4 linked regions of the Homo sapiens genome follow. The protein of the gene in region 1 purifies or fractionates together with the protein of each later gene. This does not show direct contact. Each region holds a gene or a part of one and is shown in the gene's direction. Other genes may lie near its edges.

Region 1 (7,024 bases):
AGGAATGACCAACGGCAGTTTGGAGGTTAAAAGCAAGATGGAGTTGGTTAGATCCTATCTCTTTTAGTGTCATAATCTTCTCACTGTTAATGGTTTTTGCAAAGGCAGTTAGCCAGGATGGTCTAGATCTATTTCTAGTGTTTTGGATCCTTGGTGTAGATTTGTGGAGGGAGTAAAGGAAAGGGATAGGAAGTAAATCACAAGAACCAGAGTGAAGGAATGTTTGATAGGTTTATATTGTCTTTTTCCATCCTCTTCAGACATCCTTCAAAGTTGAGCCCTTTTTTTCCGCTGTGAGTCTCTACACATGTCTGACACTCTCATGTCCCACGGATTACAGAAAGACATTCCTTGCAGGAGAACATGGCTTCCCAGTGATGTGGGAAAGATGGACTCTGATCTCCAGGGTAGAAGTGGCAACCAGAGTAAGCCAGTTCGTTGAAGCAAATGATGGCTGCAGTGAAGAGTACCGAGGCACACCCATCCTCAAACAAGGATCCCACACAGGGCCAGAAATCAGCCCTCCAGGGTAACAGCCCTGACTCCGAGGCCTCCCGTCAGCGCTTCAGGCAGTTTTGCTACCAGGAGGTAACTGGCCCACATGAAGCTTTTAGCAAACTCTGGGAACTCTGTTGTCAGTGGCTGAGGCCGAAGACCCACTCAAAAGAGGAAATCCTGGAGCTGCTGGTTTTGGAGCAGTTTCTGACTATCTTGCCAGAGGAGATCCAGACCTGGGTGAGGGAGCAGCATCCAGAAAACGGCGAGGAAGCTGTGGCTCTGGTTGAGGATGTACAGAGAGCTCCTGGACAACAGGTGAGAAAAGGAAGTCGGAACTTTGTGGTTTTGGTTATGAAGTTGTCGGGGAATCCAGTTACTGGAGAGGTGCTTGGTTGAGAAACACACAGTAGCCCTCTGCTGCCCACAGAAGGTCTTGGCTGTCTTGGATTGGTCCTATGCCCTTATAATACGGGAAGAATTTCTCATCTGTGGATACAGCTGCTAGACATTCATATATTTAATAATATTTGAAGTCCCTAATTAAGGTGGTAAAAACACTCAGAAAAATTCTCGAAAACAAGGCCAGGGAAAGGACAACTCTCCTTCACTCAGGGGATGGAGGAAAACTAGAGATGCTAGTGAATGAAAATCTAGTTTCATGCTAGGAGCTTCTTTGAGGGCAGAGTGACATGTGTTGTACACTCAACAAAATTATATTAGAGCCAGGCCTTGCTCTAGTTCTTGATGCCGGGATTAAGTGTTCAGTTTGGGACACTGATGGATTCATAAAATATCCTCTTACGGTCAGGACTAGGTCTGAGATCTGATTGGTGTAACCAGCTTATATTTTCTTGGAGCAGGGAGGTGGGAAAGGCACAGGAAGAGGAAAAGTAACATACCAGCTTCGGTTGTGGAAGAGTTGGTAGGAGGAAGGCAACTGAAATTGGGTAAGTCTGGGAGAGGCCTAGAGTAATGGAGGGCACAGGTCAGAGGAACGTTGGTCAGCCTGAGTGGGTCTGTGATCAGAGCAGGAAGCAGCTTGCTGGGTGCCAGAGTCTGCATGGCTGGAATGGGAAGGCCCTAGGCAGCAGATATACTTGTGTTTCCCAGTGAGGAGGTAGGGATGTGCACGGGCTGTGGGAAGAGGAATGGGTGAAGGGGGATATAGATGAAATTTGGTAGGATTGAAGAGTTAGTACTTTTGACTTAATTTAGAGAGGGGAAGAGCAGCTTGATGGTGATGCATCAGGGAAGAAGTTCAGGAAATTAGTCTGAAATCTGTGGGATTGGGACTCTTATTCATAAGTAAGATTGAATGGAGAGGTGCAGTAGCACTTGTATGAAGGTAGAACTTGGAGAACTGAACTATTATAAATAGAGTGGGAATCCCAGTATGCCAAGAGTCATCCTAGCCCAGTTCCCCTTCCATCACTCTGTTTGATGGTCTCTCCTCTTCTTATCCTTAACCATGTCGGAATCACACTTATGTTTATTTTATTTATTTATTTTTTGAAAGGGTCTTGGTCTGTCACTTAGGTTGGAGTGCAGTGGCATGAATGCGGCTCACTGCAGTCTCAGCCTCCTGGGTTCAAGCGATCCTCTTGCCTCAGCCCCCCAAGTAGCTGGGACTACAGGTGCACACCACCATGCCCAACTAATTTTTGTTTTTTATTACAGGTGAGGTTTTGCCATGTTGCTTAGGCTGGTCTTGACCTTCTGAGCTCAGGCAGTCCACCCACCTCAGCCTCCCAAAGTGTTGGGAATACAGGTGTGAACCATTGTGCCCGGCCCACACTCTTAATATAAAAGAAAACAGTGCAGGAGTGTATAGGTTAAACACCTATTTGAAACCTAATTTATTAGTCCGTTCTCACACTGCTATAAGGACATACCCGAGACTGGATAATTTATAAAGAGAAGAGGTTTAATTGACTCACAGTTCTGCATGGCTGTGGAGGCCTCAGGAAACTTACAGTCATGGCGGAAGGGGAAGCAAACATGTCCTCCTTCACATGGCAGCAGGAAAGAGAAGAATGAGAACTGAGTGAAGGGGGAAGCCATGAGAACTTACTATCACTAGAGTAGCATGGAGGAAACTGCCCCCATGATTCAATTACGTCCACCGGGTCCTTCCCATGACACGTGGGGATTATGGGAACTACAACTGAAGATGAGATTTGGGTGGGGACACAGCCAAACCTTATTACCTATCATGAAAGTGAAGGAGAGAGCAAGAAGTGGAGGTGGGTAGTAGTAATAGAGGTTGATATAATTTCTCAGGACCCCACTTGCCTCTCAGTACCTCTCTTCATTCCCTTTAAGGGTGTTTGTTATAAGCATGGGACTTAAAGAATGAAGATGGCTCTGAAAGACAAAAGTTGATTTTCAGTGACCGTTGATATTGAGGATTTTACAGTGAACAGGACAGGCACGGCCCCTGGCCTGCTGGAGCCCGCGGTCCATGGGGGAAACAGACAATCATAAATCAAAAGTAAACCATAAAGATCGTTTCAGATGAGTGCTTGGAAGGAAATGAGCAGAGTGATGTGATAACTGGAGTGTTGGGAGATAGGCTGTGAGGCAGGACTTCTCTGAGGTGACACTGAAGGAGGAGAAGGAACCAGTTGTCCCAAGAGCTGGGAGGAGAGTACTCCAGACAGAGGGCACAGCACATACCAAGAGCCTAAGGTGGGAAAAGACTGGGCGGGTTTGAGAGGAAGAAGGGAGGGCTTGTGGCTGGAGCTCAGAGACTGGGGAAGAGTGCTGTGAGAGAAAGGGAGGAGGCCGGGCAGAATGATGCTGGGCCTTTTAGGCTGCAAAGAGGAGTCTGGATTTTATTCTGTGTGCAGTGGGAAGCCACTGAAGAGTGCTGTTACTACGGAGGGACAGGACTCTAGATTTTAAAAAGATCACACTGGGTTCCATGTAGAGAGAATGGATTGGAGGGTCCAGCAGTAGAGAGGATGCAGACAGCAGATAGTGTCCTGGACCCTGATGGAGCCATGAGGTGAAGAGAGAGGACCAATGCGAGGTCTCTTTTGAAGACAGAACTGATACTGGATTTGGGGGGCAGAGGAAATGGCCTAGTGCTGAAGTCATGGGGGTTTGCTAAAGTGAAAGCTGACATTCTCTCTTCTGACAAATATATTTCAGTTTTTAACAGTTCTGGTGTGTCAGGCTCTATGCTAGGTGCTGTCATATAAATAATCTTAACCACTTCAAAGAGTTTTTTTTTGTTTTTGAGACAGAGTCTTGCTGTGTTGTCCACGCTGGAGTGCAGTGGCGTGATCTTGGATCACTGCAACCTCCGCCTCCTGGGTTCAAGTGATTCTCCTGCCTCAGCCTCCCAAATAGCTGGGGTTACAGATTCACACCACTACACCCAGCTAATGTTTGTATTTTTAGTAGAGACGGGGTTTCTTTCACCTTGTTGCCAGGCTGGCCTTGAACTCCTGACCTCACGTGATCCACCTGCCTCGGCCTCCCAAAGTGCTGGGATTACAGGCGTAAGCTACTGCCCCTCAAATACCTAATTCTATTAATTTTTATTTTATTACAGCAGCAATACAGTGGCTCCTAGATTTTTCTCTTCTGCTTCCTTATGTTACACATTTTTTAATGCCACTCTTAGGAGTTGTAAAGTCCAGCTTAGGCAGGAATTTGTAGTGATAGATAATGGGGTCTGTTCTCAGGTTCTAGATTCTGAGAAGGACTTGAAAGTACTCATGAAGGAGATGGCCCCTTTGGGAGCAACCAGAGAATCACTGAGATCCCAATGGAAACAGGAGGTTCAGCCAGAGGAACCGACTTTTAAGGGATCACAGAGCTCACACCAAAGACCAGGGGAACAGTCAGAAGGTAAGCAGAAGCCTCTGTCCTCACCTGAGGCAGGTGAGGAACAATCATTTACTGGAAACAAAGGTCTGAACTGAGTCCACCCAAGGGTTCCAGACTAAATGCCTTTGAAATACATCCAAAAACCGGCAGGGCGTGTTGGCTCACGCCTGTAATCCCAGCACCTTGGAAGACCAGACAGGCGGATCACCTGAGGTCAGGAGTTCGAGACCAGTCTTGCTAACATCGTGAAACCCCGTTTCTACTAAAAATACAAAAAATTAGCTGGGCATGGTAATCCCAGCTACTCAGGAGGCTGAGTCAGGAGAACTGCTTGAACCCAGGAGGTGAAGGTTGCAGTCAGCCAAGATCGCACCACTGTATTCCAGCCTGGGCTGTCTCAAAGAAAACAAAAAATATATATATATATAAAATATATAAATTTATATATATATATATATATAAATATAAATATATATATAAATATAGAAATATATATATAGAAATATATATATATCTCTCTCCATATCCAAAAGCAAGATTACAAATTTCAGTTGAGGGTAATAGCACTTAAAGTAGGAACAGAGATTCTTTATGTGTTAGCATAATTCTTTTTTATTACAATTCTGTTACTAAAGAATCAGGTGTCATTAAAGGTGAACATGGTTACCTTCACCTTCTGCACAGCAGTTTTTCATATACTTGAAGACATTAAATCCCCTTCCCCATCCAACTTAATCTTTTCCAGAATACATTTTTATTATTTTTGCTTTTCTTCCAGAGCTCTATTTTTTGTTTTTACTTGTCTTAATTTTTTTAGAAAACTTTTTTTGTTTCTTTGTTTTTTGAGACGGAGTCTTGCTCTGTCGCCCAGGCTGGAGTGCAGTAATGCGATCTTGGCTTACTGCAAGCTCTGCCTCCCAGGTTCACGCCATTCTCCTGCCTCAGCCTCCCAAGTAGCTGGGACTAAAGCACCCGCCACCATGCCCGGCTAATTTTTTGAATTTTTAGTAGAGACGGCGTTTCATCGTGTTAGCCAGGATGGTCTCGATCTCCTGACCTCGTGATCCACCTGCCTCGGCCTCCCAAAGTGCTGGGATTACAGGCATGAGCCACCACGCCTGGCCTTAGAAAACTTTTTAAACTAAAAAAATTATCTTGGCTGGGTACAATGGCTTATGCCTGTAACCTCAGCACTTTGGGAGGCTGAAGCGGGAGGATAGCTTGAGCCTAGGAGTCGAGACCAACCTGGGCAACATAACAAGATCCTGTCTCTACCAAAAAAAAAAAAAAAAAATTGTTTTAATTGAGGTGAAGGTCACATAACATAAAATTAACCATTTCAATGAACAATTCAGTTATGCTTAGTACATTCACAGTGTTATGCAGCCATCACCTCTGTCTAGTTTCAAAACATTTTTATCCTCCCGAAAAGGAAACCCTGTACCCATTAAACAGTTGCTCCCCATTCTGTTTCCATGGATTTACCTGTTGTGGACATTTCATATAAGTTGAATCACATGTATTATGTGACGTTTTGTGTCTGCCTTCTTTCACTTTTCATGTTTTGAGCATGTATCAGTACTTTGTTCCTTTTGATGGCTGAATATTCCATTGCATGGATATTCCAAGGGTCTATATTTTTATAAGTCTTTTTCCATAAAGTAATTTGGCTAGATACTTGCTGCCTTTTCTGTTTAATTGGAAGCTGCCATTACAGGTTGCTAGGTAAGTTTTTTTAAGAGACAGGGTCTTGCTCTGTTGCCCAGGCTGGAGTGCAGTGGTGGCATCATAGTTCACTGCTGCCTCAAACTGCTAGGTTCAAGCAGTCCTCCTGCCTCAGCCTCCCAAAGTGCTGGGAATACAGGCATGTGCCACCACATCCAGCCTGAAAAACAGTGTGTCTTGATGATGTTTAAGTTGGCAAACCTGTGTTGATAAACTGGAAAATTGTCTAAGAGATTTTAGTATTTTGTTTTTTTTTTTTTTTTTTGAGATGGAGTTTCACTCTTGTCGCCCAGGCTGGAGTGTAGCGGCATGATGTTGGCTCACTGCAACCTCTGCCTCCTGGGTTCAAGTGATTCTCTTGCCTCAGCGTCCTGAGTAGCTGGGATTACAGGCGCCTGCCACCACGCCCGGCTAATTTTTTGTATTTTTAGTAGAGACAGGGTTTCGCCATGTTGGGCAGGCTGGTCTCGAACTCCTGACCTCAGGTGATCTGCCTGCCTCGGCCTCCCAAAGTGCTGGGATTACAGGCGTGAGCCACCGCGCCCGGCTGATTTTAGTTTTTTTTTAAGCAAAGTTAATACTCTTGTCAACATCTTTATAAACTTTGCCACTTAGCATTTATTTCCTTTTAATCCTTGGGAACACCTGTGTTCTCTGTGTGTGATTTCCAAGGCTTTGGGACAGCAGGGGGCTGTAAGTAAAGAGAAGCAGGACTTGCTGCCTTCCAGGCTAGGCTCCCGCTCTTCCCAGGCCCATGGGCCACTCACAGATCTGGAGTGTTGTCACCTCCCGAAGGGTCACATACCTCTGAGTTGCCACTGAAGTTCCATTAATAAGTCATAGACATGATTCATTTTATTTGTACAATTTTTTTAATTTTCCTGTATTTTTAAGCGATGTCACAGTCATATTTGTACAATTCTTGAAGTTGGAGACTTGAGAAAAAATGTATTATCTTGGTGTG
Region 2 (7,024 bases), on another chromosome or scaffold:
CTAGAGATGTTATGCTAATTCCAAATTATTATTTTTTACTTTTTCCAAAATAGTTTTTTTCCTTAACACTTAGCCAAATTTGAAGTATTCTTAGTGTTTCTGTTATTATGAGTATTCTAGAAATTTCTTTTAATAAGCTTTATTAAGTCAGAAATTTTTCACTGATTTTGACTCATCCAGTACTCTTATTAAAATTAGTAATGAAGCTATTTGTATTGAGTTTGTAGTTAATAGCCCTAAAAGGGAGCTGATATGAATATATTAGGTTGGAACTTACTCCTCAAATGTTGATGTAATAGCTAACCTGACTGAATAAAAGAGAAAATGTGTAGTGTGGAGATTTTTTTAAAAATCTATTATTGTCTTGCTGAGGTTCCTCCAAAAAAAAAAGTCTGAGACCGGGTGTGGTGGCTCACGCCTGTAATCCCAGCATTTTAGGAGGCCAAGGCAGGTGGATCATGAGGTCAGGAGATCGAGACCATCCTGGCTAACACAGTGAAACCCCGTCTCTACTAAAAATACAAAAAAAAAAAAAAAGTCTTTGCATAGTAAACAAACAAGTAAATGTTAATTTGCATCCTATTTTACATAAAACAGTGCTTCAATCCTGAAAACTGCTCTGGAAATTCATGTCCTGGCTTTCTGCTCTTTATTGTTTGAAACTTTTTGTTATTGGCTGGAGTTTCATTTACGCTCTTCATTCCACCAAAGTTGGATTCCTTAATCAAAATGGTATCCCCCTGGCCTGGTGCAGTAACTCACGCCTGTAATCCTAGCACTTTGGGAGGCTGAGGCTGGCAGGCAGATTGCTTGAGACCAGGAGTTCAAGACCAGTCTGGCCAACATGGTGAAACCCCATCTCTACTAAAAATAAAAACATTAGTCAAGTGTCATGGTGCGCACCTGTAGTCCCAGCTACTCGGGAGGCTGAGATAGGAGAATTGCTTGAATCTAGGAGGCAGAAGTTGCAGTGAGCTGAGATTGTGCCACTGCACTCTAGCCTGGGCAACAGAGTGAGACTCTGTCTCAAAAAAGAAAGAAAATGGTATCCCCTTTTGTGTGTCCATATTCCCTACTTCTACCTCAAGCACTACTGGCTCCTTTGGCAATATATGTCTTTTAAATTATATTCCTGAATATTCTAATTGATTTTTTTCCTTTGTTTTTAGGGTCATTTTTGTGGTTTTCCATGATGTCTCAAAGCATGGGTGGTGATAACCTCAGTAGCTTAGATACTAATGAAGCAGAAATTGAACCAGAAAACATGAGAGAAAAGTTCTTCAGAAGCTTAGCAAGGTTACTGGAAAACAAAAGTAATAATACTAAGATATTTTCTAAAGCAAAGTACTGTCAGTTGATAAAGGAAGTGAAAGAAGCTAAAGCTAAGGCGAAAAAGGAATCAGTTGACTACCGTCGCTTGGCTAGATTTGATGTTATCCTTGTACAAGGAAATGAGAAGCTAATTGAGGCTGTAAATGGGGAAACAGATAAAATACGGTATTACTTACACAGTGAGGACTTATTTGACATTCTGCATAATACACATCTCAGCATTGGACATGGTGGACGTACTCGCATGGAGAAAGAGTTACAAGCGAAATACAAGAACATCACAAAAGAAGTTATAATGCTGTATCTGACCCTCTGTAAACCATGCCAACAGAAAAATTCAAAACTCAAGAAGGTTCTAACATCAAAATCAATTAAGGAAGTTAGTTCAAGATGCCAAGTAGATCTTATAGACATGCAGTTGAATCCTGATGGGGAGTACAGATTTATTTTGCATTATCAAGATCTCTGTACAAAGTTAACTTTTTTGCGGTCATTAAAGTCTAAAAGGCCTACGGAAGTTGCACATGCTCTTTTAGATATATTTACAATTATTGGAGCACCCAGTGTCCTACAATCTGACAATGGGAGGGAATTTTCAAGCCAGGTTGTCAGTGAACTCAGTAATATTTGGCCAGAATTGAAAATTGTCCATGGGAAGTCTCAGACCTGCCAAAGCCAGAGTTCTGCAGAACAAACTGAGGATATCCGAAAGAGGATTTTCTCCTGGATGCAAACTAACAACTCATCACACTGGACTGAATTTTTGTGGTTCATTCAGATGTCCCAAAATCAGCCCTATCACAGAAGCATGCAACAGACTCCATGTGAAAGTGCATTTAGCTCTGAAGCTAAACTGGGCTTGTCCCATTCTCAGCTAACTGAAGAACTTGTTGCCAGCTTGCATACAGAAAATGAATTAGATCAGGCTGACAAAGAGTTAGAAAATACTTTAAGAGCCCAGTATGAAGAAAACATTGAGACTGGAACAGACAGTAGTGATATTGAAGAGAATCTTTCTGTCACTCCTAAGGTGGCTGAAAAAAGCCCTCCTGAGAGCAGACTAAGATTTTTATCCTGTGTAGTTTGTGAAAAAGAATGCACAGGTGTTAATAGTTGTATATCATGTGATGGAAATATCCATGCAATTTGTGGAGTGCCCTCTCAACATGGGACTGAGGGCTGTGGTCGGCAAATAACTTGTAGCCTTTGCTATGAAACCAGCACAATGAAGAGGAAACATGATGAGATTCAAAGAAGTTTGCCTGTTAAACCTTCCAAAATGCTAAAGCCATCAGGGACACCATTTTCACCAGACAAAGTAGGAGACTGGGTAAGATTGAATATCTGCCGTAGATGAAAGCAGGGGAAGAATCTCATTACAGTGTACTGTGAATAAGTGTTGTGTGACAAGGTATATGAAAGCACATTTTTATTACCTTGGATATATTTCCCCCAAAGAAGGCCTAATTACTTTTAATGCTTCTTCTCAAATCAAGTGAAGAAGTATTTGTAGGGGTAGGGGATGATAAATTTGCTTGGAAGATATGGGTTTGTGTTGGGAAAGACTTCAGTTTGGGAATTTAAATGGAGAGCATGAAATAGAACCAAAAAAATTTAAAATCAATAGGCTTTATGAAGTAGGGTTAATGTTTTGAAATATGGAGGTTACTTATGACTTAAACTAGTGGTACGCAACATGTGATCAGTAGAGCAGTACTGGTATAAAAACTCCAGTCCATAAGGAAATAAATATAAAAATTAAGCGTAAATATTTAGAAACCTTTATAACAATTGACATTACTGCAACATCCAAGCACATGATTAATGGACTCATCTTACTGAATAGAATATAGACCAATTTAGGTATTGTTAAACTCTCAAGGTGAGTCACATGTGGTGGCAGTTACACACTAGTCAAACACAATAGGTCCCCATTACAACCTGTGATACTTTATGTTTCGTTTATCAGCCATAACCCAAAGATGTATAAAACTCTGAGAAAATATAGGCATTTATTTATTTTTATAACTTAACTTTAAAATAATTTTTTATTTTAATCAAATCTAGTTTTTAACTTGTGGTATAACACTGTTAGCTGAAGGAGGAAAGTAAAATTCATATTATTTACTTTTATTCCTAATTTCAGATGGCGAAACAAGCTTCACTGGACTTTTTTGTCAAGAAAAGACATGCCTTTTCTGAACACAGTAGTAGTAATAAAAGAAATGTTAACAATAGAAGTTATCCTGAAGAAGGGAAAACCAAAAGAGTTCATGCTAGTTTCACTCGGAAATATGATCCTTCATATATTGAGTTTGGTTTTGTAGCTGTAATTGATGGTGAAGTACTAAAACCACAGTGTATTATTTGTGGAGATGTACTGGCTAATGAAGCAATGAAACCATCAAAACTTAAGCGACATTTATATTCAAAACATAAAGAAATAAGTTCACAACCAAAAGAATTCTTTGAAAGAAAGAGTAGTGAATTGAAAAGCCAACCAAAGCAGGTGTTCAACGTTTCTCATATAAACATTAGTGCTTTGCGGGCTTCATATAAAGTAGCACTTCCGGTTGCCAAGTCTAAAACACCATACACAATTGCTGAGACACTAGTGAAAGACTGCATCAAAGAAGTTTGCTTGGAAATGTTGGGTGAATCTGCAGCAAAGAAGGTAGCTCAGGTACCACTTTCCAATGACACCATAGCTCGACGTATTCAGGAACTGGCTAATGATATGGAAGATCAACTCATAGAACAAATAAAACTAGCAAAGTATTTTTCATTGCAACTTGATGAATGCAGAGATATTGCTAACATGATAATTCTTTTAGTCTATGTGAGGTTTGAACATGATGATGATATAAAGGAAGAGTTCTTTTTTTCAGCCTCTTTGCCTACAAACACAACTAGCTCAGAACTGTATGAAGCTGTAAAGAATTATATTGTTAACAAATGTGGTTTGGAATTTAAATTTTGTGTAGGAGTATGTTCTGATGGTGCAGCTTCAATGACAGGAAAACATTCTGAAGTGGTAACCCAGATTAAGGAACTTGCGCCAGAATGTAAAACAACACATTGCTTCATTCATCGAGAAAGTCTTGCCATGAAAAAAATATCAGCTGAACTAAATAGTGTACTTAATGATATAGTAAAAATTGTGAATTATATAAAATCTAATTCATTGAATTCAAGATTATTCTCTTTATTATGTGATAATATGGAAGCTGATCATAAGCAACTGTTACTGCATGCTGAGATACGGTGGTTATCACGGGGAAAAGTTCTGTCAAGAATGTTTGAAATACGAAATGAACTCTTAGTGTTTCTGCAAGGCAAGAAACCCATGTGGTCCCAACTTTTTAAAGATGTGAATTGGACAGCCAGACTTGCTTATTTGTCTGATATCTTCAGTATTTTTAATGATCTTAATGCTTCTATGCAAGGGAAGAATGCAACTTATTTTTCAATGGCAGATAAAGTTGAAGGACAAAAACAGAAGTTAGAAGCTTGGAAAAACAGAATTTCTACAGATTGTTATGACATGTTTCATAATTTAACAACAATTATCAATGAAGTAGGTAATGATCTTGATATTGCACATCTGCGAAAAGTTATCAGTGAACATCTTACAAATTTGTTAGAATGTTTTGAATTTTATTTTCCATCAAAAGAAGATCCACGCATAGGAAATTTGTGGATCCAAAATCCATTTCTTTCATCAAAAGATAACTTAAATTTAACTGTAACTCTACAGGATAAGTTGTTGAAGCTGGCTACCGACGAAGGATTGAAAATCAGTTTTGAAAATACAGCATCACTTCCTTCATTTTGGATAAAAGCTAAAAATGACTATCCTGAGCTTGCTGAGATTGCTTTAAAATTGCTGCTTCTTTTCCCCTCAACATACCTCTGTGAGACCGGATTCTCTACTTTAAGTGTTATTAAAACAAAACATAGAAACAGTTTAAATATACATTATCCCCTGAGGGTAGCATTGTCATCAATCCAACCTAGATTAGACAAATTAACAAGCAAGAAGCAAGCTCACTTATCACATTAAAAGCTTTAAATATTGATATGTAAGGTATTGGTTCAAAGTATGCATATAAGCATTGAGTGTGAGGAATTTGCTATTTCACTTTAAACTTTCTGTCTAGTTACAGTTATGGAAGTATGAGAAGTTATGAGTGAAACAGCAATTTTCTATATAAATTGCCTATATGTATATTTTCAATTAAGAATGTGTACAGTTTTTATAATTCTATTTTTCCTCATATTTGTCGTATTTATTAAAATATAATTTTAAATCTGTTGATTCTAATATTAAAACATTTGATCTTATATTTTGTGTCTTCTTCTTGTATTTCATTAGCATGTTAAGATTGTAGGACAACTTCAGGATGGGAGATGGTTTCTTTGAAATAGACAAGGTCAGTGAAAGGAAGTGAATTCAAAGGGGTAGGCTTAGAATTCAAATGCAGGGGACAGGTCAGTAGGGTATGAAGTTTGTTAAACTGATCCAGAGTGGTTAGGTTGGAAGTTGATGTTGTTTGTTTTGTAGGTGCATGTTTAGACAAAGATGGAAGGGAACACTTATTTTGTAATGGTGTTATGGCCTTGGATTCATATTGATAAATTTATTTACTTATTTATTTTTGAGGCAGGGTCTTGCTCTGTTGCCCAGGCTGGAGTGCATTGGTGCAATCTCTGCTCACTGCAACCTGTACCTCCTGGGTTCAAGTGATTCTCTTGCCTCAGTCTTCCGAGTAACTGAGATTACAGGCACCCACCACCATGCCTGGCTAATTTTTGTATTTATAGTAGAGATGGGGTTTCACCATGTTGGCCAGGCTCATCTTGAACTCCTGACATCAGATGACCCTCCCACCTCGGCCTCTCAAAGTGCTGGGATTACAGGCGTGACCTGCTGCGCCCGGCCGATAAATTCTGATTTCATAAGGATGGGCGATTGGGCCATACTGACAAGTTTATGTTAGGTGGTTTCTAGATTTTGCTAGAACTGATTGCCTTTAAGGTGCTCTGGGACAAAGTCAGAAATTATTGGCACCTCAATTAGATTTAACAACCTCTATTTTGTTTGGAGATGATTCAGAAAAATGCCACAAATATCTGCTCTTGTGTCTGTGAACTCATTTAGAATAATCGAAAGCAAATTAGTCCGATAAAACAGGTTCTTTAGCATCAAAACATGACAGAATCCATGAAGAAAATATCTTTTCCTAGACAGGGTAGCAATTTACAGTAAGTGCTTCGTTTCAAATAAATGTGATATTCAAAGTTAAGGAAAGGAAGGCTATTTAGTGATTCAGAATGTTACTAATAATTTAACCTTTTGGTAATGGAAGTTTCAAGGATCCTCCAAACCTTTGAAAGTAGAGGAAAGGTTCATATTTAGTCCTGAAACCTTAATTGGATTATGTTTTATTGTGTGTTTGTTTTAATCTTACAGCTTTTCAAAAACAAAAAACCTTATCATGGTGGATAGATTTAGAAGACAGTGGTTTAATTTCTCCCACTGACAAATTATATGCCCTCTTTCTTATCTGACCATATTCTAGAACTAAGGGATTTTAAAATGTTTTACAGTTTGTTTTATTGATTGAATAAAGTATTGTGTTTCCCATTTTTAATTTCAAAAGGCAATGTGGTGATTTTATATTTATTTCTA
Region 3 (7,727 bases), on another chromosome or scaffold:
TCTCAACTGGAGTTGTTGTTTTGTGATTGGAAATATGTGGGGTTGTGCAACTAGCCACCAGGGAAGATGAATGCCCTGCAATTAGCCAAACAGTCCCGCAACATGGAGAATTGCTCCCCCTAAAATGTTTTCTCTCTGATATAAAGTTATAAGCGAAAGTCAAGAGCTTTTCAATTGCTGCATTACTAGTTGAATAAGACATCTGCATGCCTGGATAGTGCAAATTACCTATCTTTTTTTTTTTAAATCTCTGTGCCACTTATGAACATTGCAAAAGATATTGCTTACTTTCTGTATTGGGTCACACGACCTCTGCATAGTATTCCTCTTCAAAGGTACTGCAAATATCAGTTTTGATAGAAAAATATCAAAAGTAGCTCTCTGACCTAAGTGCTTCCCATTTATTCTACTTGCCTTATACCCCTTTCCTGGCCTGCCAGATGCTTTTAAGAACCTATTTTTGAGAACTGCCAAGTATTATTTTACCCATTTTACAGAAGAAAGTGAGACTTACAGAGATTAAGTCAATTGCTCCCTCAAGGTCACAGAGACAGCAGGTTCCAGAGGTGAGCTTCAAACCCAAGCATTCTGACTCCAAACTTCAGGTGCTTAACTGCTATGTCTGAGTTGTTATTTATATTATGTTTTTCAGTCATATTTGACTCCTTTTACATCATTGTGGAATGCATCCAAATGATTTTGGGATTACTTCTTCATCTTAAATGTCTGAAGCTGTACTCAATTCTCAGCCTAGATACTCGCTATATTAATATGAGTATGTCGCTTATCTTCTTTGTATCTATCACTAAAAGAAAGCAATTGTGCTAGAAATTTGCTCTCCAGTGTCTCTTGATATTAACTTTAATAATTCCATCAACAATATCTAGACCTTTTTATTCTCAAGACATATAATTTTCAATTATGCCATATCAAAACATAATTGATATGATTGCATAATATCTTTTTGTTACTATTTTAAAAAATTGTTTCCACCAGGAAGTGAAGGTAGGTGTCATAAGTGCTATCTGGCTTGGTGCAGTGGCTCATGCCTGTAATCCTAGCACTTTGGGAGGCCAAGGCAGGTAGATCGCTTGAGCTCAGGAGTTCAAGACCAGCCTGGGCAAGATGGTAAAACTTCATCTCTACAAAAAAAACCCACAAAAAATTAGCCTGGCATGGTGGCGCATGCCTGTAGTCTCAGCTACTTGTGGGGCTGAGGTGGGAGGATCACTTGAACCTGGGAGGCAGAGGTTTCAATGAGAGCCAAGATGGCACCACTGCACTCCAGCCTGGGGAAGACTGAGACCTTGTCTCAAAAAAAAAAAAAAAAAAGTGCTATCTGACAGGCTTTGGCCCATTGTAGTAATCTACAAGTCTACCAAATTTAGATCTTATATTGTAATATCTTCTTTCCCCTGATCCCCAAATTCCCTTCATAATTCTCATTATTTCATTGACAAAAGCCCAAGGATGAACAAATTGTTTTCTTTTGAGGTAAAACAAAACAGATCTAATAATTGCGTATGTTTATGCTTGATAATAATAATAATATATTTTATGAACATCCCTCCCAAGTCCCGATTGCACTGTTTTGATATTCAGTCACGGTATCTTTATTCATAGCCTGCCTTTAATGAGAATAGTAGAGGTCTTTGTGCATAAACACAAGAAGTACAGTGCTATTTTCATAGTGTTTAAGAAGTACTTATTATAAAATAATGTACTCTGTGTTTTATAAAAGGATCAAACAGTAAAGAAATATAAAAAATGAGAAGTTTCCCATTTCCTCTAAAATATCTGCTTTTGCTGAATCTCCTTCCCAAGAAGAATTAATAATTCTTCTGTAAGTGTTATGATATTTTGTTGTATGCAACATAATTTATATGAAAAATTAGCACACACCTCAAACTATATACCATTTATTGGATTTAAAGTGGCTATCATTTAATCATTTAAAAAGCTTTTTTTCTAAATACAGTTGTCTTTCTAAAATGTTTAAATTAGGGTTTTTGGTAGTATTATTATTGTTGAAAAGGTAATATGTGCCCATGATATAAAACTTGAACACAAAAGAGAATAAAATGTAAAGAAAATCACCTTTCCACTGCAGATCCATAGTCTCTATGACCAGAAGGATTTTTATACATATGAAATCATAAATATCTGTCTGAAAATAATGCAACATAGTATATATTCTTTTGAAAAAGTGGAAGCATGATGTATACGTTACTTTGCTTTGCTGTCTTAGATATTAGAGATCAATAGGCCAGGTGTGGTGGCTCATGCCTGTAATACCAGCACTTTGGGAGGCCAAGGCTGGTGGATCACTTGAGGCAAGGAGTTCGAGGCCAGCCTGGCCAACATGGTGAAACCCATCTCTACTAAAAATACAAAAATTAGCCAGACATGGTGGCTGCATCTGTAGTCCCAGCTACTTGGGAGGCTGAGGCAGAAGAATCTCTTGAAACCTGGAGGCAGAGGTTGCAGTGATTCGAAATGGCACCACTGCACTCCAGCCTGGGTAACAGAGCGAGACTCTGACATACCAGCACATCTCAATCTCTTCCTGCTTCTTGGCCATACTGTAGCCATCACAGAGTAGTATCATAACCAGTTAACCAGTCTTTTAAGAATGAATAATTAAGCCATTTTTCACTCTTTTGCTATTAAAAATAGTAACGTAGGTTTAAAAAGCATCCTTGCTCATCTCTGTACACATATTAAGAATATATCTAAAGGATAAATTCCTGCAAGTAAAATTTTCTACAAAAGAAATTGCTGAGTCATAGAAAGGGGATATTTTAAATCCTTGATACATATTAAGCTGCATCCAATAAAGTTTTCTCAGTTTAAGAGAGTAAAAAAGGCCTGATTTATAGCATTTGTATTGGGTGCTATCTTTTTTTTTTTTTTTTTTGAGATGGAGTCTCACTCTGTGGCCCAGGCTGTAGTGCAGTGACATGATCTCGGCTCACTGCAACCTCCGCCTCCTGGGTTCAAGCGATTCTCCTGTCTCAGGCTCCCAAGGAGCTGGGATTACAGGTGTGCACCACTACGCCCAGCTAAGTTTTGTGTTTTTTGTAGAGATGGGGTTTCACCCTGCTGGCCAGGCTGGTCTCGAACTCTTGACTTCAGGTGATTCGCCCACCTCGGCCTCCCAAAGTGCTGGGATTAATAGGCGTTAGCCAATGCACCCAGCCTAGTGCTGTCTTCTGAATGATTCTTTATTACAGTACACTAAATAAAATGTCTGTATTTATGCAACTCAGGGTTTGTCAGCAAATATTAGGAGGTAAAACTAATTGGAACTGTTTTAGACCCTTTTGGCCCCTAAATGCCATATCATATTACACAAAAATACCCACCTATAGTTATACATAAATATTGAGGTGAGTTGCAGTTGATGTTATATTTTTAAAAGAAAAATATTAATTAAATATGTATTAATATACATTAGTGTTTTGAAGTCTATCCATTTTTTCCCCCAGCCATACAAAGTTTGGTAGGATTCTAAAAGCTTGTAGGCCCTCAAGCACCACTCCTCTAGTGCTTAATGGGTTAAATGTCCCTAAAGCTAATTTGAAAAGCAAATTGCCTCATTCTTTCTCTTCATATCTTTCTTTCAAACTGTAAATTTTAAGAGCTGTTTATTCCTTATTCTCCTTGTTCTTAATTTGTTTAATAAAGTTTTAGATCTTTAGCGAATATTTTGCAACAACAGAAATATCCCCAAATTTCCTGGTGCTAGAAAACAGCCACAATAGTAAGTAGGTCAAGTCTGTATTGCTTAGGGAACAGGGAGATTTTTGTTTTAAAGCAGTGATTCTTCTGAGAGTAGGGCTCTGGGCGCAGGTGAGTGGTAAACAATCCTTTTTCCTGCAGGGATGTTGCTGTTGTGTAAAAGCAAAAGCATTTTGTGTAAGGATGTTAGGCTCCAGTAAGTATTTCAAAGCCACATTATCTTTCTCATTAGGGGGAGTTTCTCTCTGTACTTTAAAAGAAGATAATGATGCTTGAAAAAGCTCAAGATTGACTAACTTTTAGGAAGCTGCCAGAGTTGTGCATAGACGTCCTCACTACAGTAGCTTCGTTATGTCTTACGAACAATTTAACCTTCACTTCTAGTCATCGTTTCGTCATCGTAAGCACTGGGTCATTACAGAGTTCAGTGTACCTAAAACGCAAGCTGTGACTGATGAGAATCCAAGCTGCAAACTGGGCGGCTTGGGCAACTGTTTTCTTAACCACCCTCCACGTTGTGGCTTACGTCTTTTAGCACCGCCCTCAGGGCAAAGGATGGTGGTCAGAGGTAACTACCACAGTAAAAGAAGGCTATTTATGTGGTCTGTTTACAGTTACCCGGTTTCAACACTAAGCCAGCTTTCCGCCACGTCTCGGGCGAACCTCCGGCCTGAGGTCACAGAGACGCCCGGGTGGCTCTCAGGAGCCAGCATGGCAGCCTCCTCAGGACGGGTACTCAGGAATTTCGCCCGCAGGGACTAACACCACTTGGACCCAGGGACTCCAGCTTCACTCCGCTTTGTGCACTGGGTGGGGCGGTCGCGGTGACGTTTCAGGCAACGCCTCTGCTGTCAGCCAATAAGGAGCGGGAGACGCGTCGGGCCTGCGCTCAATGGGCCGCGCTGGTCCCGCCCCACTGTGATCGTGAGACTGCAGACCCGCTAATAAAATCCACCCCAACAATCGCTGTGTGCCGCTTTAGTGCGCTCGCCGTCGGCTCTACCTGCGTGCTTTAGCTCCTTCTCGCCTGATCCTTCTGTCTCTCCCAACCCCGGACACCCGGCTTCGACTGGTTATATCTTCGGTGTTCTTTTCCTCTCTTCTTCTTTCGCGGTTCAGCATGCAGGAAAAAGACGCCTCCTCACAAGGTTTCCTGCCACACTTCCAACATTTCGCCACGCAGGCGATCCATGTGGGCCAGGATCCAGAGCAATGGACCTCCAGGGCTGTAGTGCCCCCCATCTCACTGTCCACCACGTTCAAGCAAGGGGCGCCTGGCCAGCACTCGGTGAGCTGGGTCTGTCTGGGGCTGTCCACAGTTGGGCGGTAAAAGAGATACGGCTTATGAATTTGAAAGGCATGTAAGTAATTTATAATATGACTTATAAATTAGGAAGGCAACCGAAAGATGTTTCTACACTGTAATTCTTGCAGCACAGCTTTGTATCGGATGGTCCAGTGATCGTATTTCTTTTGATAAGCAGGACTGGAAGGAGCCGTTTGTCCAGCTTGCCATTTAGATTTGGCCTGAAATTCAGGTGATTTTGACAAATTTGCAATTAAAAATCGAAGGTCATAACTTTTTTGAGTTACCTTTAGCAGCATAAATTTTAAAGATGTAGTACGGAGTCAGCTTAAAAAATATTAAGGGTCTGATAACTTGACTAGAATTAAGATTGTTTCCAGTAGCTGTATGAATAGTTATTGAGTACCTACTATATGCCAAATACGTGCTCGTATATATCATGTGTATTACATGTATTGTCTCATCTAATCCTAACAACAACCCTAGTCTGAACCGAATTCTCATTTTTTCCCAATAAAGAAGCTGAGATTTAGGGAGTTAAGTAACTAGCCTTAGACTAGTAAGTATTGGAGATGGAATTCAAACTTTAGAAACTTGAGGTTGCTTTAGGAACCAACTCCTAGGCACTCAGCTACACTATGCTATCTCTAATAATGCTAGTAACAATTTAGCCTATTGCGTCATTTAAGCACTGTGGCTTAGTGATTAAGAACACAACTCATGACCGGGTGCAGTGGCTTACGCCTGTAATCCCAGCACTTTGGGAGGCTGAGGCGGGTGGATCACCTGAGGACAGGAGTTCGAGCCCAGCCTGGCCAACATGGTGAAACCCCATCTCTACTAAAAATAAATAAATTAGCTGGGCATGGTGGCGGGTAATCTCAGCTACTCGGGAAGCTGAGGCAGGAGAATCGCTTGAACCCAGGAGGCAGAGGTTGCAGTGAGCCAAGATCTCACCATTGTGCTCCAGCCTGGGTGACAAGAGTGAAACTCCAACTCAAACAACAACAGAAAAAGAGAACACAAATCTTATAGTCAAAGGCTAGGTTTGCATTCTGACACCACTTCTTCTGAGCTGGGGGACCTTGGGCAAGTTAGTTAACCTATCAAAACCTCTGACTGATCCTGTATAAATGGGGATAATAATAGTATCTACCACATAAGTTGTTGAGATGTATTTAAGGCTGTATAGTACATAATAATTACTCGATGGTAATTTGTTTTTTCATGATGTTCACATTTACACTATTTCCATTTGATCCTCACAACAACCAGGTCAGAAGGCAGGACAGGTATTATGTACTTTTTATAGAAAAGGAACTGACACAGAGTCATACATGAATGATCTGTAAAGCCTACGAAGGAGCCCTCTTTGTTAATCACATAGCTTTTTTCCCCCTTTTGGTGGCATACTTGATGGATCTTAGAGAATTTAAAAGTTGCTGAGATTTGTAAGAATTAGTTAAAGTCTGTAAGTCCAAAGCCTTGATTATGCTTTGGAAACCACTTCAGTGTGTTATATAAGTTGAGGAAAATCCTTACAGACAGTCCCTTGTTTTGTGAGATACAGTTCTAAGGCCATTTCTACAACTGGTTTAGAATACTCTTTACTGTATTTTAGAATCAAAATATGTACACAGCCTCTCTTTCTTTCTTTCTTTTTTTTTTTTTTTTATTTTTCAGAGAGAGTCTTACTCTGTCACCCAGGCTGGAGTGCAGTGGTGCGATCTCGGCTCACTGCAACCTCCGCCTCCCGGGTTCAAGCGATTCTCCGGCCTCAGCCTCCTAAGTAGCTGGGATTACAGGCGCCTGCCACTGCGCCTGACTCATTTTTTATTTTTTTTAGTAGAGACGGGGTTTCACCATGTTGGCCAGGCTGCTCTTGAACTCCTGACCTCGTGATTCACCCGCCTTGGCCTCCCAAAGTGCTGGGATTACAGGTGTGAGCCACGGCGCCCGGCTCACAGCCTCTCTTTCAAACATGCAGTTCGTTTCTTGTGTAGGGTTTAATGAAAGTGTAGCTGCCCAAGCTTTGGAACTTAGTGCAAAAGTTTACCATTCAGGTGTGATATTAATAATTAAATGTTTCCAGGAAGCCAGCAGGGATGGTTAAATCCACAAAAACTCTGCTTAATATCTTTTTTTTTTTTTTTTTTTTGAGACAGAGTCTTGCTCTCTTGCCCAGGCTGGAGTGCAGTGGTGCGATCTTGGCCCACTGCATCCTCCACCTCCTGGGTTCAAGTAATTCTCCTACCTCAGCTTCCCGAGTAGCTGAGATTACAGCTGCCCGCCACCATGCCCAGCTAATTTATTTATTTTTAGTAGAGACGGGGTTTCACCATGTTGGCCAGGCTGGTCTTGAAATCCTGACCTCAGGTGATTCACCTCTGAAAGTGCTGGGATTACAGGCATGAGCCACCGCGCCCGGCCCTTTTTAAAAATCAGCTAAGACCACTAAAGGGAATTTGAAGAGCTGAATGAGAAACGGGAGGTACCTTTCTGTGGCAGAAGCCACGTGAATCCAAACTTTTTTTTTTTTAATCTGCAGGGTACAGCTGCAGGTCATGGTAAGAAGGTGATGGTGGGGAGGGGTAAGGATATCCTGGAGCCCTATAAAATATGTCTGCTCAGGTTGGGCGCGGTGGCTCACGCCTGTAATCCCAGCACTTTCGGAGGCTGA
Region 4 (7,324 bases), on another chromosome or scaffold:
TAGGCTAATTTTTTTTTTTTAAGAGCTGGGGTCTCACTGTATTGCCCAGGCTGATCTTGAACTCCTGGGCTCGTCATCCTCTTGCCTTGGCCTCCCAAAGTGCTGGGATTATAGGGGTGAGTCACTGTACTTGGCCAGATTGTTATTATTTTTTAAACTGGATTCCACTAAAAAAACCTACAGTCAGAAGACTAGTAAGTCATTATTTGAGAAAACTGGTCTTAACCTAGACACAGTAGTTTTGTGTGAATTTTTGGTTGGAATCATGACAGTATCTTGGAGTTAAGTGTAAATACACATGTATTCTCCTTGACTTTCATTGACAACTTAGAAACAACTATTTTGGAACTGGAAAAAACTCCTTGCAGGTACTCTCAGAAAATTAATTTTCCTAAGGAGCCAGCCTCAGTGGCTCATGCCTGTAATCTCAGCACTTCTTGAGGCCCCAGTGGGAAGATCGCTTCAGCCCAGGAGTCTGAGACCATCTTGGGCAACATAGCAAGACGCTGTCTCTACAAAAAATAAAAAATATTAGCCAGGCATGACGGTGCATGCCTGTAGTCCCAGCTACTCGGGAGGCTTAGGTAGGAGGATCACTTGAGTCCTGGAGGTCAAGGCTGCAGTTGCCGTGATCATGCCACTGCACTCCAGCCTGGGTGACAGAGTGAGACCCTTATCTCAAAAAATAATAATAATAAAATTTTTTTCCCCTAAGGTTTCCCAATGACTTCGGTAACATAAATATATGTTGTCCTGTATTCTCTCTTGTACTCCCAGTATCAATATCTGGCATGAAGCAACAATGCTAATGCTCAGAAAATCTGTTAAAATATGCATGCTCATCTTTACACAGCACATACTCTGATTTTGTTAAACTATCATTCCACTATCAACTCTGGTATTCATTTCTAGGGCAGAGTATATAGCACAAGAATCCTTGCGTAGGCAATTAGTAGCAATGGGAAACTGATCCTTATTTAGTAAATGTTTACTGAGCTCCTAAATAGTACCAGCGACTCTTCTGGGCACTGGGAATTCAAGTATGAACAAGTCTAACAAATTCCTTGTCCTCAGAGATTGTAATGTGAGAAGAGAAAAAAACACATTAAAAAGATGTCTGGCAGTGTTAAGGGATATGCAGAAAACTAGACAGTAAAATGATAGTGTGTATGTCTGTGGAGGGTGTGCCTTGAGCTGCAGTGTCAAGGAAGGCCTCTCTAACGCGACAGGTGATCTTAGGGCAGAATTTCTCTAGACATTCTCTGTATCCAAATAACTGTTCTATTTTTATCACAGAGTAGACTGGACTAACGCCGAAAGCCGGGGCGTGGTGAACCAGCCGCCCTACCTGCAATGTGCGGCCTGGTAGGATACTGTTCCAGAAGTAGCTTGGGCTTTTCAAATCCATCCACTTGTTGCAGGCGACTCTCTAGTTCCTTAAGCCTTACTTTCTTCATTTTGTTTTAAAGTATGGACTCGTAGGGTTTGAAGGCACAGGATCTGCGGAGAAATCTATTGAACTGGGATCTTGTTTCCTCCCTACCCCCAACCTTCTCCCTTTTTCAGCACCGCTGGCCGGACCCGAAGACGCGCCCTAAGGAGACGCCCGGACGCAGGGCACGGGGCGAGCCTCTGACCCACCTCCCGGCTAACCCAAGCCGCCCCAGGAGACGGCGGCGGCGCACTGCTGGAGCAGCCTCAGGATCCCTCGCGCCACGACCACGCACCTCTGGAGGCGACCCGCACCTCGGCCGGTGCCGGAAGCGCCAGGCCGCACGCGCGCACGCGTTCGCCGCCCAGCGGCCCGGCGCCGAGCTGCAGCGTTTATCTTGAGCCGGGGTTCCGCTGGCCACCTGGGGGCCTCATTGCCCCATCCCCTCCGCCTGCAAAGCCTGCGCTACTTGCTGACCCACCGCCAGTCCTCGCCGCCTGTCGCGTGCTCATTACCCTCTAGTTTGCCATGAGTACCTGCGGGCCCTCAAAGGATGGGGAAAGACAGAGTGAAAGGGATGCGGGAGAGAAAGTCACAGTCACTTTGTTGTATGGCCCAGAGTGACTCTTCTTGTTTCCCAAGTCTCGGCTCAAAAAGTAGCGATCTCCATTCACCTTTACCTCCTTCTCCATTCTCATGCCTTATTTTATTGTAACTTTGTTTCCCAATTTTTAGGTCATTTGTGTCACTTGCAATTCTCACAGGAGTGGTGATGTCAAAGAAACCCAAAGAAGAGATAGTGGAGAGGCAGGGCGCGGCGGCTCACGCCTGTAATCCCAGCACTTTGGGAGGCCGAGGTGGGTGGATCACGAGGTCAGGAGATTGAGACCATCCTGGCTAACACGGTGAAACCCTGTCCCTACTAAAATTACAAAAAAATTAGCCGGGCTTGGTGGCGGGCGCCTGTAGTCCCAGTTACTCGGGAGGCTGAGGCAGGAGAATGGCGTGAACCCGGAAGGCGGAGCTTGTAGTGAGCCGAGATCAAGCTACTGCACTCCAGCCTGGGAGACAGAGCGAGACTCCGTCTCAAAAAAAAAAAGACAGTGGAAATGAAAATAAAAGAATAGGTAGTGGTGTCAAATACTGGAAAGAGGTCGGGCTTCATAAAGTAGGAGCAGAAATTAAGTTGTAGCAGATTGTGGAGCGAATGGAAATTTAGGAAGAAGAAAGAGTAAATGTGAACAATTAAACGTGGCCCCGGAAGCGGTGGCTCACCCCTGTGATCCCAACATTTTGGGAGGCCGAGATGGGCGGATTGCTTGAGACGGGAGTTTGAGACCAGCCTGGGCAACATAAGGAGACCCTGTCTCTACTAAAAATACAAAAATTAGCTGGGTCTGATGACGCGAGCCTGTGGTCCCAGCTGCTCGGGTGGCTGGGGTGGGAAAATCGCTTGAGCCCGGGAGGCAAAGCTTCCAGTGATCTGAAATTGCGCCACTGCACTCCAGTCTGGTCGACAGTGAGACCCTGTCTCAAAAAAAAAAAAAAAAAAAAGAAAGAAGAAAAGAAAGAGAAAGAGAAAGGTGGCCTACGAAAAGAATGGTTGGATGCTTAGTAATGGGGGAAGCTTTATTATTTTTTCAATTATTTTTAAGACAGGAGGAGACAAATTCTGACAAGAATTGAGCTAATAGAAAGAGAGGGGTTAAAAATGCAAGAGGATATTGGATGGAGTTGGGATCCTGAGAAGGCAGGATCCAGTGGTTAAGTAAAAGGATTGCAGGATTGCGTTTAAGCCTGTGGATGGACACCTCTTTGCATTATTATAGGAAGAAGAAAAAGAGTGAATGGACGATGACGAAGTAGAGAAGTGTCTGAGGCTGCTACTTCTAGGAATAGCAGAATTCAAAGTTATCTGTTATGAGAATCAAATGAGTTAAAACATACAAAGTTTTAGCATGTAAAGTTAATACATAAAGTTTTATTTAGTTTATAATTTAGTGATTCGTAAAATTATTGAGCAAATTTAACTTATCACTGTTATATGATGATCGTGACATACTTAACTCATGTAGAAGACCAGGAATAACCTGTTTTAATTATGTTTCATTCATTTCAAACACAAGGTTATGGATTGGAAACACTCCTGTTCTTCTTTGTTGTTGTTGTTGTTGTTGTTGTTTTTAGAGACGGAGTCTCGCTTTGTCACCCAGGCTGGAGTGCAGTGGCGCGATCTCGGCTCACTACAACCCCCGCCTCCTGGGTTCAAGTGATTCTCCTGCCTCAGCCTCCGGAGTAGCTGGGATTACAGGCGTGCGCCACCATGCCCGGCTAATTTTTGTATTTTTAGTAGAGACAGGGTTTCACCATGTCAGCCAGGCTGATCTCAAACTCCTCACCTCAAGTAATCCGCCTGCCTCGGCCTCCCAAAGTGCTGGGATTACAGGCGTGAGCCACCGCGCCTGGCCTTCTGTTCTTCTTTGGATTGCTTTTCCTACAGTTTTTGTTTTCCTTAAGTTGGGGTTTCATTCTGTCGCCCGCTGGACTTTGATAACAGTAGGAATGTACATCTCAGACAAAATGCAGATGCCTAAAGTACATCTGAAAGATGATGTGAATAATTCCTGTAGTCTATGCAAATAAAGAAATAATTGCCCTTATTAAAGATTTCCTATAAGGTGAGTACTTTATTTCAGTAGCTCTTAACTTAGAAAGTTGGGAGCCTAGCTTGGTCCACAGGCGCCCAGGAGAGAGGGGCGGGAGGAAGGCTCTGCAGCCCGAGGGGGCGTGTGTAGGGGCGGGGCTGCGGGCGGAGGAGCGCGGACGCTCCGGGTATCGCGAGAGTTGGGCGGGCCGAGCAATCGCAGCAGTCTATTCCCTCACTCTCCCTGGAGGAGCCGCTGGCCCTGGACTCTCCAAATTCTGAGCTCTCATCATGGCGGCGGCGGCCGCGGCGGCCGTCGGGGGCCAGCAGCCGTCACAGCCCGAGCTGCCCGCGCCGGGGCTGGCCCTAGACAAGGCGGCCACCGCCGCGCACCTCAAGGCGGCCCTCAGCCGGCCGGACAACCGCGCAGGTGCTGAGGAGCTGCAGGCGCTGCTGGAGCGGGTGCTGAGCGCCGAGCGGCCGCTGGCCGCGGCTGCCGGCGGCGAGGACGCGGCGGCGGCCGGAGGCGGGGGCGGTCCGGGGGCGGCCGAGGAGGAGGCCCTGGAGTGGTGTAAGTGCCTTCTGGCGGGCGGCGGCGGCTACGACGAGTTCTGCGCGGCGGTGCGGGCCTACGATCCCGCGGCGCTCTGCGGCCTGGTCTGGACAGCCAACTTCGTGGCCTACCGCTGCCGGACGTGCGGCATCTCGCCCTGCATGTCGCTGTGCGCCGAGTGCTTCCACCAGGGCGACCACACCGGACACGACTTCAACATGTTCCGCAGCCAGGCCGGGGGCGCCTGCGACTGCGGGGACAGCAACGTGATGCGGGAGAGCGGGTGAGTGGAGCCCTCCCCGCGGGCGAGGCGACCCTGGGCCGGGGACGTCGCGGGAGGGCCTGGAGCGGAGCACTGGGAGCCCACTCTGAGCTGTCAAGGGGAGGGTGCGGGGGAGGGTGCAGCCACAGGGGGATGGAGGTGACTGAGCTGTCAGCGGTGGAAAGGGGGTGGGGAGGAGAAGGAGGGGAGAGGAGAGCGGAGAGCATGTTTAGGAAACCGGGCTGTGAATTTTGGGGAAGCCAGGGTGGGTAAATGATAGCGAGAAAAGAGCCAGTGTATGGGGTAGGAGGGGAGTGAGGGGAAATGATTTTTGGGGAAGCTCGTGTCGAGCTGTCAAGTGTGTACTTGTTGGGAAAGGCTGTAAAGCCTGGTTCTTGGGAAGAGACTTAGGTTGTGATTTGGATTGGCTGGGAGGGGATGTTATTGGGGACCGTATTGGCTCGCGGGATGATGAGAGCTGGGGAGGTGGTCTTGTACGTGCAGGGAAGGACGCTTGAGGAAAAGGTCTTCTGAACTGCCAGTGTGTCTGTCACTGTGAGAGAAGGAGCTCTTGAGGGTTGAGGGAGGAGGGAAGGGGAGGGGCCTGCATGAAAAGTGACTGTTGAGCTGTCAGTGGATTATTTGGTATGCTGGAATGACATTTAGAATTGGGCTACTGAGCAGTCAGTTACAGAATACCCTCCATACCAGGAGAACAAACAAAATACTGAGCGAACCAGGAATCAAGTGTTAGGTCTTCTCCAGTTAAGGGCACTTTGTTCACTCACTGATACGTGAACCTCTGTCTAAAAGGAGACAACAAATGCCCTTTTGACAGAAGCGATGCATCAGATGTTGGGACTTATGAGAAAAGACATTTCAGAGTTTGCAGTGAGTTACAGAGAGTTGGTACATGTAGGGTCGTGGCTTGGAACATGATGTCAATGTCAGGGACAGTCTGAGAAAAAAGGAAAAAGTGAAAGGGGCGATTTTGGATGGGCAGTAGTTGAAAGAATATTAGCAACTACAGGTTGCTATCAGTTATTAAACTTCTTCAATTTTCAGGTCTTAGGATTAATGACAGAGTACAATCTTTTTATAAATGGTCACCTTTTTCTTCGGAGTACTTGTAAGGTTACTGTTACTCCAAAATGTTTGTACCTACTATGTGCAAGCAAGGCTTCTTGGATATTAAAAATGAATGAAACATTGACCAACCCCTTACTCTACTTGCACTGGAGTAGAAAGTAATAAATTCCTTAAACAATAACTTGGTAGCTAGAGGAGGGAGATGAGGTTTCTGTGCAGAGGGAGTAAGAAAAAGTCTTCAGAAAGGAGGTATTTTGAATTTGCTAATAATAATAACAACATAATTGCAGCTAACATTTGAGTTTTTTTTTTTTTTTTTTGAGACGGAGTTTCTCTCTTGTTGCCCAAGCTGGAGTGCAATGGCGCGACCTCGGCTCACTGAAACCTCCGCCCCCTGGGTTCAAGCGATTCTCCTGCCTCAGCCTCCCAAGTAGCTGGGATTACAGTCATGCACTACCACGCCTGGCTAATTTTGTATTTTTTTAGTAGAGACAGGGTTTCTCCATGTCGGTCAGGCTAGTCCCGAACTCCCGACCTCAGGTGATCCGCCCGCGTCGGCCTCCCAAGTGCTGGGATTACAGGCGTGAGCCACCGCGCCCGGCCAACATTTGAGTTCTTGAACTGTATGTCTGATACTTTAAAAGTACTTTTTAAAATTTAATATTTGAATAGGTAAAATATATAGCTAAAAAGTACACACACACACACACACACACACACACACACACACACACGGAAGTTTTTCTCACATCTAGTCTTCTATCTGTCCAGTTCCTTCCCGCTTAGTTTCTCTTGGTGCAGAACAAGCAAAGATGTTTCCTAGTTTTTCAGTCTCTTTTTATGCAAAGGGTTACATACTTTCCACTGTTCTACATCTTGCATTTTTTGGTTATCTTAGATGTATTTTTCCTATTAAAAAATCAGTGTCGTCATTCTATTTTTTTAAAAAAACTGCTGCATAGTGTTCCATGTTTTCAATTTGCCATTCTTTAATTTCTTTTTTTATTTTTATTTTTATTTTTTGTGCGTGTGAATTTGCCATTCTTGATTTAATGTCTCTTCATGGGCATTTGGCTTTCCAGTATAAAATTAAAAACGTGGTGTATCTGTCTTTTCCCCACCTGGTCAAGAGAGTCAGTGGGATAAATTCTCAAAAGTGTGATTTCCAAATTGCCCTCCCTAAGGCTTAGTACTAATTACTCTGTGAGACTGCCTGTTTTCCAACAGCCTCATCAACAGAGTAGTAGTAAAATTTTGGACTTTTATCTATTTGGTTAAAAGTGGCCAAATTCTAGCTGTTTTATGTGATTTAACTTATTTATTCTTTGACTCTGAGATTATTAC

The links.
Region 2: the proteins of ZSCAN32 (region 1) and SCAND3 purify together in Homo sapiens (affinity purification with mass spectrometry; 3 studies listed by BioGRID and IntAct, with this or other methods). This does not show direct contact.
Region 3: the proteins of ZSCAN32 (region 1) and CTH purify together in Homo sapiens (affinity purification with mass spectrometry; 3 studies listed by BioGRID and IntAct, with this or other methods). This does not show direct contact.
Region 4: the proteins of ZSCAN32 (region 1) and UBR3 purify together in Homo sapiens (affinity purification with mass spectrometry; 3 studies listed by BioGRID and IntAct, with this or other methods). This does not show direct contact.

Annotation. Positions count from the first base shown.
Region 1 is NC_000016.10:3,390,981-3,398,004, reverse strand, and holds part of ZSCAN32 (zinc finger and SCAN domain-containing protein 32), read left to right. Parts: exon of another isoform or gene 1-260; 5' UTR 261-447; coding exon 448-813; intron 814-1,397; exon of another isoform or gene 1,398-1,632; intron 1,633-4,190; coding exon 4,191-4,356; intron 4,357-7,024.
Region 2 is NC_000006.12:28,570,282-28,577,305, reverse strand, and holds the end of SCAND3 (SCAN domain-containing protein 3), read left to right. Parts: intron 1-1,169; coding exon 1,170-2,662; intron 2,663-3,478; coding exon 3,479-5,395; 3' UTR 5,396-6,771; downstream 6,772-7,024.
Region 3 is NC_000001.11:70,406,555-70,414,281, forward strand, and holds the start of CTH (cystathionine gamma-lyase), read left to right. Parts: upstream 1-4,713; 5' UTR 4,714-4,861; coding exon 4,862-5,029; intron 5,030-7,727. UniProt on the Homo sapiens protein: Catalyzes the last step in the trans-sulfuration pathway from L-methionine to L-cysteine in a pyridoxal-5'-phosphate (PLP)-dependent manner, which consists on cleaving the L,L-cystathionine molecule into L-cysteine, ammonia and 2-oxobutanoate.
Region 4 is NC_000002.12:169,823,141-169,830,464, forward strand, and holds the start of UBR3 (E3 ubiquitin-protein ligase UBR3), read left to right. Parts: upstream 1-4,313; 5' UTR 4,314-4,367; coding exon 4,368-4,912; intron 4,913-7,324. Other genes in the region: rRNA N(6)-adenosine-methyltransferase METTL5, read right to left, coding at 1,349-1,457. UniProt on the Homo sapiens protein: E3 ubiquitin-protein ligase which is a component of the N-end rule pathway. Does not bind to proteins bearing specific N-terminal residues that are destabilizing according to the N-end rule, leading to their ubiquitination and subsequent degradation.